Homo sapiens: one gene and its partners. The protein of the gene in region 1 purifies or fractionates together with the protein of each later gene. This does not show direct contact. Each region holds a gene or a part of one and is shown on either strand. Other genes may lie near its edges.

What was found. Proteins that work in one complex are often made in the same cells at the same time.
Region 2: the proteins of TAF1L (region 1) and TAF5 fractionate together in Homo sapiens (co-fractionation; one large-scale study listed by BioGRID). This does not show direct contact.
Region 3: the proteins of TAF1L (region 1) and TAF4 fractionate together in Homo sapiens (co-fractionation; one large-scale study listed by BioGRID). This does not show direct contact.

The regions. Positions count from the first base shown.
Region 1 is NC_000009.12:32,632,870-32,637,091, reverse strand, and holds the start of TAF1L (transcription initiation factor TFIID subunit 1-like), read left to right. Parts: upstream 1-1,422; 5' UTR 1,423-1,512; coding exon 1,513-4,222. UniProt on the Homo sapiens protein: May act as a functional substitute for TAF1/TAFII250 during male meiosis, when sex chromosomes are transcriptionally silenced.
Region 2 is NC_000010.11:103,381,476-103,384,975, forward strand, and holds part of TAF5 (transcription initiation factor TFIID subunit 5), read left to right. Parts: intron 1-245; coding exon 246-366; intron 367-1,762; coding exon 1,763-1,892; intron 1,893-3,500. UniProt on the Homo sapiens protein: The TFIID basal transcription factor complex plays a major role in the initiation of RNA polymerase II (Pol II)-dependent transcription.
Region 3 is NC_000020.11:62,055,882-62,059,381, reverse strand, and holds part of TAF4 (transcription initiation factor TFIID subunit 4), read left to right. Parts: intron 1-3,500. UniProt on the Homo sapiens protein: The TFIID basal transcription factor complex plays a major role in the initiation of RNA polymerase II (Pol II)-dependent transcription.

The DNA.
Region 1 (4,222 bases):
CAATTGACAGAAGAGGAAAAACAGTTGGTCAATAAGTGTATGAAAAGTTAGCCTTCAGTAGCAATCAGAAAAATACAAATTAAAACCACATTATCATTATACATTTATTAGAAATGAACAAAAATTAACAAATGACAATGCTAAGTGTTAGAATGGATGTGGAGAGGTGAGAACTTTTATACACTGCTGTTAGGTATGTAAAATGGTACAACTACTTTGGAGAACAATTTAGTAATAGCAAGTGTAGTTGAAAAAGCATATATTGTAAAATCTAGTAATTCCACTCCTAGATGTATACCCTGGAGAATGTGTCCTACATATGCTCAAGGAATCATATACATTATTTATAAGAGGAACAATTTGGGAACAATTTAAATGAACAAACATAGGAACATAGATAAATTGTAGCATAACCATACTGTAGAACACTATAGAGCTATAAAAATAGAATTGAATGCATCAACATAGTTGAATATCATAAACATAAATTTTATCCAGAAAACATTCTGGCTAAGAGTACATACAGTAAGGTCGGGTTTGGTGGCTCTTGCCTGTAATCTCAGCACTTTGGGAGGCCAAAGTGGGAGGATTGCTTGAGGCCAGGAGGAGTTTAAGACCAGCTTGGCTAACATAGTGAGATCCCATCTCTTAAAAAAAAGGAAGGGGGAAAAAAAAAACGAGTACACACAGTAAGATGCCTTTTATACAAAATTGTAAAGCATGACAATGCTATAGATTATTTGGAGAAGCATACATATGCAGTTCATGTATAAAGAGATTTACAGAGGCTGGGTGCAGTGGCTCACGCCTGTAATCCCAGCACTTTCGGAGACAGAGACGGGCTGACCATCTGAGGTCAGGAGTTTAAGACTAGCCTGGCCAATATGGTGAAATCTTGTCTCCACTAAAAATACAAAAAATTAGCCAGGCATGGTGGCTCATGCCTGTAATCCCAGCTACTGTGGAGGCTGAGGCAGGAATCTCTTGAACTCCTGAGGTGGAGGTTTCAGTGAGCCGAGATTGTGCCACTGCACGCCAGCCTGGGGCGACAGAGCAAGACTTTGTCTCAAAAACCAGCAAACAGGCTGGGCGCGGTGGCTTACGCCTGTAATCCCAGCACTTTGGGAGGCCGAGGCAGGCGGTTCACGAGGTCAGGAGATCGAGAGGCTAACATGGTGAAACCCCGTCTCTACTGAAAATACAAAAAAAAAAAAATTAGCCAGGCGTGGTGGCGAGCGCCTGTAGTCCCAGCTACTCAGGAGGCTGAGGCAGGAGAATGGCGTGAACCCAGAAGGCAGAGCTTGCAGTGAGCCAAGATCGCGCCACTGCACTCCAGCCTGGGCGACGTTGCGAGACTCCGTCTCAAAAAAAAAAAAAAAAAAAAGTTTTGCGGGTTTTTCCCCCCGCCCCTTTGCCCCCTCCCCCCGCCTTTATTCAGCTTCCGGTAGACGCTGGTAGGGTAAGGGAGCTAAGTAGATCACTTCCGGGCGACTGTTGTTTTATTTCCGGTTTATGCGACCCGGCTGCGATTTGCTGCTGAGGGCAGCAGCTACCGTCACTGCCGCCATCATGTCAGACTCGGACAGCGAGGAAGATTCATCTGGAGGTGGCCCATTTACTTTAGCGGGTATCCTTTTCGGCAACATCAGTGGAGCGGGGCAGCTGGAGGGGGAAAGCGTCTTGGATGATGAGTGTAAGAAGCACTTGGCAGGCTTGGGGGCTTTGGGGCTGGGCAGCCTAATCACTGAACTCACGGCAAATGAAGAATTGACTGGGACTGGCGGTGCCTTGGTAAATGATGAAGGGTGGATTAGGAGTACAGAAGATGCTGTAGACTATTCAGACATCAATGAGGTGGCAGAAGATGAAAGCCAAAGACACCAGCAGACGATGGGGAGCTTGCAGCCCCTTTACCACTCGGATTATGATGAAGATGACTATGATGCTGATTGTGAAGACATTGATTGCAAGTTGATGCCTCCTCCACCTCCACCCCCGGGACCAATGAAGAAGGATAAGGACCAAGATGCTATTACCTGTGTGTCTGAAAGTGGAGAAGACATCATCTTGCCCTCCATCATTGCCCCTTCCTTTTTGGCCTCAGAGAAAGTGGATTTCAGTAGTTACTCTGATTCAGAATCTGAGATGGGACCTCAGGAAGCAACACAGGCAGAATCTGAGGATGGAAAGCTGACCCTTCCATTGGCTGGGATTATGCAGCATGATGCCACCAAGCTGTTGCCAAGTGTCACCGAACTTTTTCCAGAATTTCGACCTGGAAAAGTGTTACGCTTCCTACATCTTTTTGGACCAGGGAAGAATGTCCCATCTGTTTGGCGGAGTGCTCGGAGAAAGAGGAAGAAGCATCGTGAGCTGATACAGGAAGAGCAGATCCAGGAGGTGGAATGCTCAGTAGAATCAGAAGTCAGCCAGAAGTCTTTGTGGAACTATGACTATGCTCCACCACCACCCCCAGAGCAGTGTCTCGCTGATGATGAAATCACGATGATGGTTCCTGTGGAGTCCAAATTTTCCCAATCAACTGGAGATGTAGATAAAGTGACAGATACCAAACCAAGAGTGGCTGAGTGGCGTTATGGGCCTGCCCGACTGTGGTATGATATGCTGGGTGTCTCCGAAGATGGCAGTGGGTTTGACTATGGCTTCAAACTGAGAAAGACACAACATGAACCTGTGATAAAATCTAGAATGATGGAGGAATTTAGGAAACTTGAGGAAAGCAATGGCACTGATCTTCTGGCTGACGAAAACTTCCTGATGGTGACACAGCTGCATTGGGAGGATTCTATCATCTGGGATGGGGAGGATATCAAACACAAAGGGACAAAACCTCAGGGTGCAAGCCTGGCAGGCTGGCTTCCTTCTATTAAGACTAGGAATGTAATGGCTTACAATGTTCAGCAAGGTTTTGCACCCACTCTGGATGATGACAAACCTTGGTACTCCATTTTTCCCATTGACAATGAGGATCTGGTGTATGGACGCTGGGAGGACAATATCATTTGGGATGCTCAGGCCATGCCCCGGCTGTTGGAACCTCCTGTTTTGGCACTTGATCCCAATGATGAGAACCTCATTTTGGAAATTCCTGATGAGAAGGAAGAGGCCACCTCTAACTCCCCCTCCAAGGAGAGTAAGAAGGAATCATCTCTGAAGAAGAGTCGAATTCTCTTGGGCAAAACAGGTGTCATCAGGGAGGAACCACAGCAGAACATGTCTCAGCCAGAAGTGAAAGATCCATGGAATCTCTCCAATGATGAGTATTATTTCCCCAAGCAACAGGGTCTTCGGGGCACCTTTGGAGGGAATATTATCCAGCATTCAATTCCTGCTATGGAATTATGGCAGCCCTTCTTTCCCACCCACATGGGGCCCATCAAAATCCGGCAGTTCCATCGCCCACCTCTGAAAAAGTACTCATTTGGTGCACTCTCTCAGCCAGGTCCCCATTCAGTCCAACCTTTGCTAAAGCACATCAAAAAAAAGGCCAAGATGAGAGAACAAGAGAGGCAAGCCTCAGGTGGTGGAGAGTTGTTTTTTATGCGCACACCTCAGGATCTCACAGGCAAAGATGGAGATCTTATTCTTGCAGAATATAGTGAGGAAAATGGACCCTTAATGATGCAGGTTGGCATGGCAACCAAGATAAAGAACTATTATAAACGGAAACCTGGCAAAGATCCTGGAGCACCAGATTGTAAATATGGGGAAACTGTTTACTGCCATACATCTCCTTTCTTGGGCTCTCTCCATCCTGGCCAATTACTGCAGGCACTTGAGAACAACCTTTTTCGTGCTCCAGTGTATCTTCATAAGATGCCAGAAACTGATTTTCTGATCATTCGGACAAGACAGGGTTACTATATTCGGGAATTAGTGGATATTTTTGTGGTTGGCCAGCAGTGTCCCTTGTTTGAAGTTCCTGGGCCTAACTCCAGAAGGGCCAATATGCATATTCGAGACTTTCTACAGGTTTTTATTTACCGCCTTTTCTGGAAGAGTAAAGATCGGCCACGGAGGATACGAATGGAAGATATAAAAAAAGCCTTTCCTTCCCATTCAGAAAGCAGCATCCGGAAGAGGCTAAAGCTCTGCGCTGACTTCAAACGCACAGGGATGGATTCAAACTGGTGGGTGCTTAAGTCTGATTTTCGTTTACCAACGGAAGAAGAGATCAGAGCTAAGGTGTCACCAGAGCAGT
Region 2 (3,500 bases), on another chromosome or scaffold:
AGGCTGGTCTTGAACTCCTAACCTCAGGTGATCCACCTGTCTCAGCCTCCCAAATTGTTGGGATTACAGGCATGAGCCAGTGCGCTTGGCCAATATTTTAAATCAAGAATTTTAAAAGTCTTTATATATTCCTTAAAATAGAGGATTGAGGAGATATTTAGTATAGTGTGAAAATGATTAACATTTGCTTCCTATCTCTAAATATCCTAAAATAGTATTGTTTAGTCTAACCCTTTTATTGGCAGGGTCTCACTGCAGTGGATGTCACTGATGATTCTAGTCTGATTGCTGGAGGTTTTGCAGATTCAACTGTCAGAGTGTGGTCGGTAACACCCAAAAAGCTTCGTAGTGTCAAACAAGCATCAGGTAACTGAGATGACCTTTTGGAATGTGAACTTGCCATTAGTCTATACCAATCTTGATTCCATGGAAAATACACAGGAGATTGTGTTCTTTACAGAAATTCACTTGATTTTACTTTAACTCAAGATTCTAACATTCCCAACAGTGAAAAAAGCTTTGGAGTGACTGGGGTGCTAGACTGGTTTAATTTCTTTAGGTCTCAGTTTTCTCATCTGTAGAATGAGTGAGTATTAAGCTAAAAAACTTAAAGTTAAAAATCTAACATTTTATGATTGCTTGTAAATCTTAAAAAATCTTTAAATAAGGGATGGTACTTCCTGTTTTAGTCATAAAAATGGCTAAAAAGAACAAATAAGGTCAGGATTTTATTTGAAAGTTTTTTACTTTTTGTTTTTTTGAGACAGAGTCTCGCCCTGTCACCCAGGCTAGAGTGCAATGGCGCAGTCTTGGCTCACTACAGCCTCTACCTCCCAGGTTCAAGGGATTTTCTTGTGTCAGCTCCCCAGCTCCCCAGTAGCTGGGATTACAGGTGCCCACCACCATGCCCAGGTAATTTTTGTATTTTTAGTAGAGATAGGGTTTCGCCATGTTGGCCAGGCTGGTCTCGAACTCCTGACCTCAAGTGATCCGCCTGTCTGGCCTCCCAAAGTGCTGGAATTATAGGTGGCTCACTGCAACCTCCACCTCCCTGGTTCAAGCGATTTTCCTGCCTCCACACCCGGCCTGAAATAAAGTTTTTTACTAACTATATTATTTAAATAAAACAATATATTTTAAATTATTTCAATATTTCCATAGGTTTTTTTTTTTTAATTTTAAATTTTTTTTAGATGGGGTCTCACTCTGTTGCCCAGGCTAGAATGCAGTGGTGTGATCACGGCTCACTGCAGCCTCTAATCCCTGGGCTGAAGTGATCCTCCCACTTCAGCCTCCTGAGTAGCTGAGACTACAGGTGTGTGCAACCACACTGGCTAATTTTTTATTTTTTGTAGAGACAGGGTTTCTCCATGTTGTCCAGGCTGGTCTCGAACTCCTCTGGGCTCAAGCAATCTGCCCGCCTTGGCCTACCAAAATTCTGAGACTACAGGTGTGAGCCACCATGCCTGGCCCATAGTTTTCATTTTGTGAAACACTGTGGCATAGTGGGCAAAACTGAGTTTCAGTTCTGGTTCCCACACTGAGTAGCTGTGTGCACTCTAGCAAATTATCTGTTCTGAACGTCATTTTCTTCTCTTACACGCTGAGATGATACTGCCTAATTTAGAGGGATTAGCAAAGTGCGGTTGGTATATAGGAGGAAATTTTCAAATGTTAATTCCTCTCCTGCACTGTGATATGATTACTTTAAAAGTTTTGATGAATGTACTTATAAAATATCAATATTTCTGGACCATTTTAGATCTTAGTCTTATAGACAAAGAATCAGATGATGTCTTAGAAAGAATCATGGATGAGAAAACAGCAAGTGAGTTGAAGATTTTGTATGGTCACAGTGGGCCTGTCTACGGAGCCAGCTTCAGTCCGGATAGGTAAAATACAAACAATAAAAATTAAATACTGCTATGTTATATTGAAATTATATAAAAGTTAACTACTGGAAACATTATGCAAATGCTGGGAAAATTCTGATAAAAATCTCATGGTTGTCTGACGTTCATCATCTTTTAGAATCTTGCCATTTGCTAATTCATCTTTGAATCCTGGTGTTTGTACATGGTAGCAATTTAATGTATACTCACTTTTTTTTTTTTTTTTTTGAGACAGAGTTTCGCTCTTGTTGCCCAGGTTGGAGTGCAATGGCGTGATCTTGGCTTACCGCAACCTCCGCCTCCTGGGTTCAAGCGATTCTCCTGGCTCAGCCTCCTGAGTAGCTGGGATTACAGGCATGCGCCACCACACCTGGCTAATTTTATTTTTTTATTAGAGATGGGGTTTCTCCATGTTGGTCAGGCTGGTCTTGAACTCTCAACCTCAGGTGATCTGCCCACCTCAGCCTCCCAAAGTGCTGGGATTACAGGCGTGAGCCACTGTGCCTGGCCTGTATACTCAAATTTATAGAATCAAAATGCACAGTTTCAGGGCTTACTGGTTTTAAAAATTAGCTTTAGTATTTCCCTTTTTTTTTTTTAATTATTTTTATTTGTTACCCAATGGTAAATAACCAACCAAAGCTTTAGTTTTATAGAACTCCATTAGGGGTTGAATTGCTTCATTGGGTCCCTGCATTGTGTCTTCTGGCTGCTTCATCAAATTTAAGACAAATTCCTGACATTAATGGCATATTAGCTAGTAATTGAGGATTAATCTTTCTATAATCAAAAGTACTAAGAGTAAATGAAAAAGGAAATTCAAAATTGGTTTGCTTCCCTTTAGGTGTATGATTACAATGTCATCCTATGTGTATAGGTATTTGCCTATTTTTCATGATCTCTAACACTGTAAAAATGGGTGGAGGGTGTTTTGTATTCATAATACCATCAGTATATTACTTGGATAGATAATAGCTTTCAGGCCGGGCACAGTGGCTCACGCCTATAATCCCAGCACTTTGGGAGTCCAAGACAGGCGCATCACCTGAGATCAGGAGTTTGAGACCAGCCTGGCCAACATGGGAAATCCTGTCTCCACTAAAAAGTACAAAAATTAGCAGGGTGTGGTGGCGCCCACCTGTAATCCTGGCTACTTGGGAGGCCGAGGCAGGAAAGTCACTTGAACATGGGAGGCAGAGGTTGCAATGAGCCGAGATTGCACCACTGCACTCCAGCCTGGGTGATAAGAGCAAAACTCCATCTCAAAAAAAGAAGAAAAGAAAAAAAGATAATAGCTTTCCATCCATCAAGGTTTCATCATTACGAAACTTTGAGAATTAGGTTTTTTGTTGCTTGATAAGGTTTTGCCAGATGATACATTTTTGAGGGAAACGTCTGATTTCAGTGAAAATTGTAATAACCTTCTGACTATCAATCTTTTGTGTTTATGCTTGAAAAAGGTAGAGAATTATTAGCATGTCTGTAGTTTTTTTTTCTTTTTCTTCAAAAGACATTTCCTTTTTAATTCTTACATAGCTTACACAGCATGGGAAAATAGCATCTTTATTTTAGGGTCAAAAATTGTTGAGTTTTAAGTGACATATCACA
Region 3 (3,500 bases), on another chromosome or scaffold:
TTTGAGTGAAAACTTTTGATTTTTACATATCTCAAATGAACATTTGCACCAAAGATGTACAGCTTTCGAAAAACAAAGAGATACATGTTGTCCACCATGAGGCCCCTCTCCCATTTGAGAAAGTACCTGGTGTCCGCTGTTGGTCAGTCCGCGGTGGTCCCAGGCTCTTCTCCAGGCCTGCCTTCTGCCTGGAGCAGGCCATGCTGCAGTGTGCAGGATGATGTAGTGAAGTGCCCCCAGCTTCTCCCACCGTGGGTGTCATGTTGTGGAGCAGAAGTTGTCGTTGGGAACCGCGTGTGAGGGCAGGAGAAATTGTTTGTTGGGAGCCGCATGTGGGGACAGGAGAAGTTGTCTGTTGGGGACTGTGTTTGGGGACTGGAGAGGTTGGCCCCCCGAGCCCCATTGTCTGTGGCCTGGTGTGTAGACCTGTGTCCGTCCTTCCTGAGGTCTTGCTGAGGTTGGCCCCCGAGCCCCATTGTCTGTGGCCTGGTGTGTAGACCTGTGTCCGTCCTTCCTGAGGTCTTGCTGAGGTTGGCCCCCGAGCCCCATTGTCTGTGGCCTGGTGTGTAGACCTGTGTCCGTCCTTCCTGAGGTCTTGCTGAGGTTGGCCCCCGAGCCCCATTGTCTGTGGCCTGGTGTGTAGGCCTGTGTCCGTCCTTCCTGAGGTCTTGCTGAGGTTGGCCCCCCGAGCCCCATTGTCTGTGGCCTGGTGTGTAGGCCTGTGTCCGTCCTTCCTGAGGTCTTGCTGAGGTTGGCCCCCCGAGCCCCATTGTCTGTGGCCTGGTGTGTAGACCTGTGTCCGTCCTTCCTGAGGTCTTGCTGAGGTTGGCCCCCGAGCCCCATTGTCTGTGGCCTGGTGTGTAGACCTGTGTCCGTCCTTCCTGAGGTCTTGCTGAGGTTGGCCCCCGAGCCCCATTGTCTGTGGCCTGGTGTGTAGACCTGTGTCCGTCCTTCCTGAGGTCTTGCTGAGGTTGGCCCCCCGAGCCCCATTGTCTGTGGCCTGGTGTGTAGACCTGTGTCCGTCCTTCCTGAGGTCTTGCTGAGGTTGGCCCCCCGAGCCCCATTGTCTGTGGCCTGGTGTGTAGACCTGTGTCCGTCCTTCCTGAGGTCTTGCTGAGGTTGGCCCCCGAGCCCCATTGTCTGTGGCCTGGTGTGTAGGCCTGTGTCCGTCCTTCCTGAGGTCTTGCTGAGGTTGGCCCCCCGAGCCCCATTGTCTGTGGCCTGGTGTGTAGACCTGTGTCCGTCCTTCCTGAGGTCTTGCTGAGGTTGGCCCCCGAGCCCCATTGTCTGTGGCCTGGTGTGTAGACCTGTGTCCGTCCTTCCTGAGGTCTTGCTGAGGTTGGCCCCCGAGCCCCATTGTCTGTGGCCTGGTGTGTAGGCCTGTGTCCGTCCTTCCTGAGGTCTTGCTGAGGTTGGCCCCCCGAGCCCCATTGTCTGTGGCCTGGTGTGTAGACCTGTGTCCGTCCTTCCTGAGGTCTTGCTGAGGTTGGCCCCCGAGCCCCATTGTCTGTGGCCTGGTGTGTAGACCTGTGTCCGTCCTTCCTGAGGTCTTGCTGAGGTTGGCCCCCCGAGCCCCATTGTCTGTGGCCTGGTGTGTAGGCCTGTGTCCGTCCTTCCTGAGGTCTTGCTGAGGTTGGCCCCCCGAGCCCCATTGTCTGTGGCCTGGTGTGTAGGCCTGTGTCCGTCCTTCCTGAGGTCTTGCTGAGGTTGGCCCCCCGAGCCCCATTGTCTGTGGCCTGGTGTGTAGGCCTGTGTCCGTCCTTCCTGAGGTCTTGCTGGGCCCTTTGTGTCCCCCACTGGGCATCACTGGAAAGCGCCGATGTGAGGAAGGCACACGTGGCATCTTGATCTCAAAGTTGTGAGAGGAGCGTAGCCAGGTAGGGTGGTGTTGGGGTACATGGATCTTGGAGGGACCATTTCCGAATAGTCAGGAAACCCCAGAAACAGTTTTTTCTGTCTATCAAATTTGACATTAGGTTTTAGAATGAGGGCCCTGCAGTAAGAAGGTCTGTGGCTCCCAAGGGAATTGTTTCGGGGTTGGGGTCAGAGGTCTGAGTGGACAGTGCGTGGACAAGGCAGGACACTAGGAGCCAGGGAGCTGAACCCTTCTCTGGGCGCTGGGTGTGGCCCAAGCACACCTGGGGCAGAGGCTTTGTGGGTCAGCTGGTCCACTGGGGGCTGCAGACACTGTGGGCAGAGGTGCTGCCGGTGGCAAGGTGGGCACCTTGTTCCATGGGGTCGGGGGACACAGCCTTTCATTTTCTGACTTTGCAGTAAAGTGTGTGGGACAATGACCTGTGAAAGTTTTTAAAGGAAGTTCTGTGTCTTCTGCGGAGGAGCGTGGTCTCCGTGGTGTTCATAGGAGCCACGCACGGTGCTCAGAGCATGCCCAGAACGCACAGGCCTGCCTTGCTTTGGAGCTTTGCAGAAGGTTACGAATGTCAGTGTCAGAAGCATCATGACAGGAACAAGGGTGACACGGGAAGCAGGCTCGATTGGCTTTTTTATGTAACTGTAAGTGTAAAAAATTATTAGTTACTTCAACATGATTTTTTTGATGATAAAATTAGTTTTTTTTTCATTATAGGAAGTTTGGGAAGTAAACTGTAAAGAAGAAAATACAGTCACTTGTAACGTCACCTGGCCCAGACTGCTAAAATTTCGGGGTGTCTCACTTCAGCCTGTGTCTGCTGCATATCTGCTTCTGTGTTTTTCTGTAATTACAGTTCTCCTGTGACCCAAGTCTGTGCTTTGCCTTGTCCTGTGTCTGGTGCACTTTCCCTTGGCCCTCGGTGGTCTCAGGCTCCAGCATTTGGTAACGGCCCCTGTGCCAGGGTGCTGTGCTGATGGCGACAAGTGGCCCCCTGTAGGTGAATGCCTTCATGTCTAACTGTGTGTGTGTCTGGTGGGTTGAGCATTTTCAAGGCTTTGATACATATCACCTTCCACCAGATTACACTTTTAAAACCATTGCCAGAATACGACTTTTGGGAATGGATACCATTCTAAAGGAAGAAAATCGTGTCTAGTTTTAAGTTGCATTTCTTTGAGTGAAATTAGACCTCGTTCATGTGGATGTTGGCTATTTATTCTCGCCAACTGTGCCTATTTGTATAAGCGCGTTCTTGTTTTTTTCTTTTTTTTCGAGACAGAGTCTCACTCCATCACCCAGGCTGGAGTGCAGTGGCGCAATCTCAGCTTACTGCAACCTCCGCCTCCCGGGATCAGGTGATTCTCATGCCTCAGCCTCCCGAGCAGCTGGGAATACAGGCATGTACCACCACACCCAGCTAATTGTTGTATTTTTAGTAGTGACGGGGTTTCACCTTGTTGGCCAGGTTGGTCTCGAACTCCTGACCTCAAGTGCTCCGCCTGCCTCTGCCTCCCAGAGTGCTGGGATTACAGGTGTGAGCCACTGCGCCTGGCCTGCATGAGCACATTCCGAGGGTGTGTACTGGGCCACGGGGGAAGGCTGATGAGGGTACCAGGGTTCAGCTGTG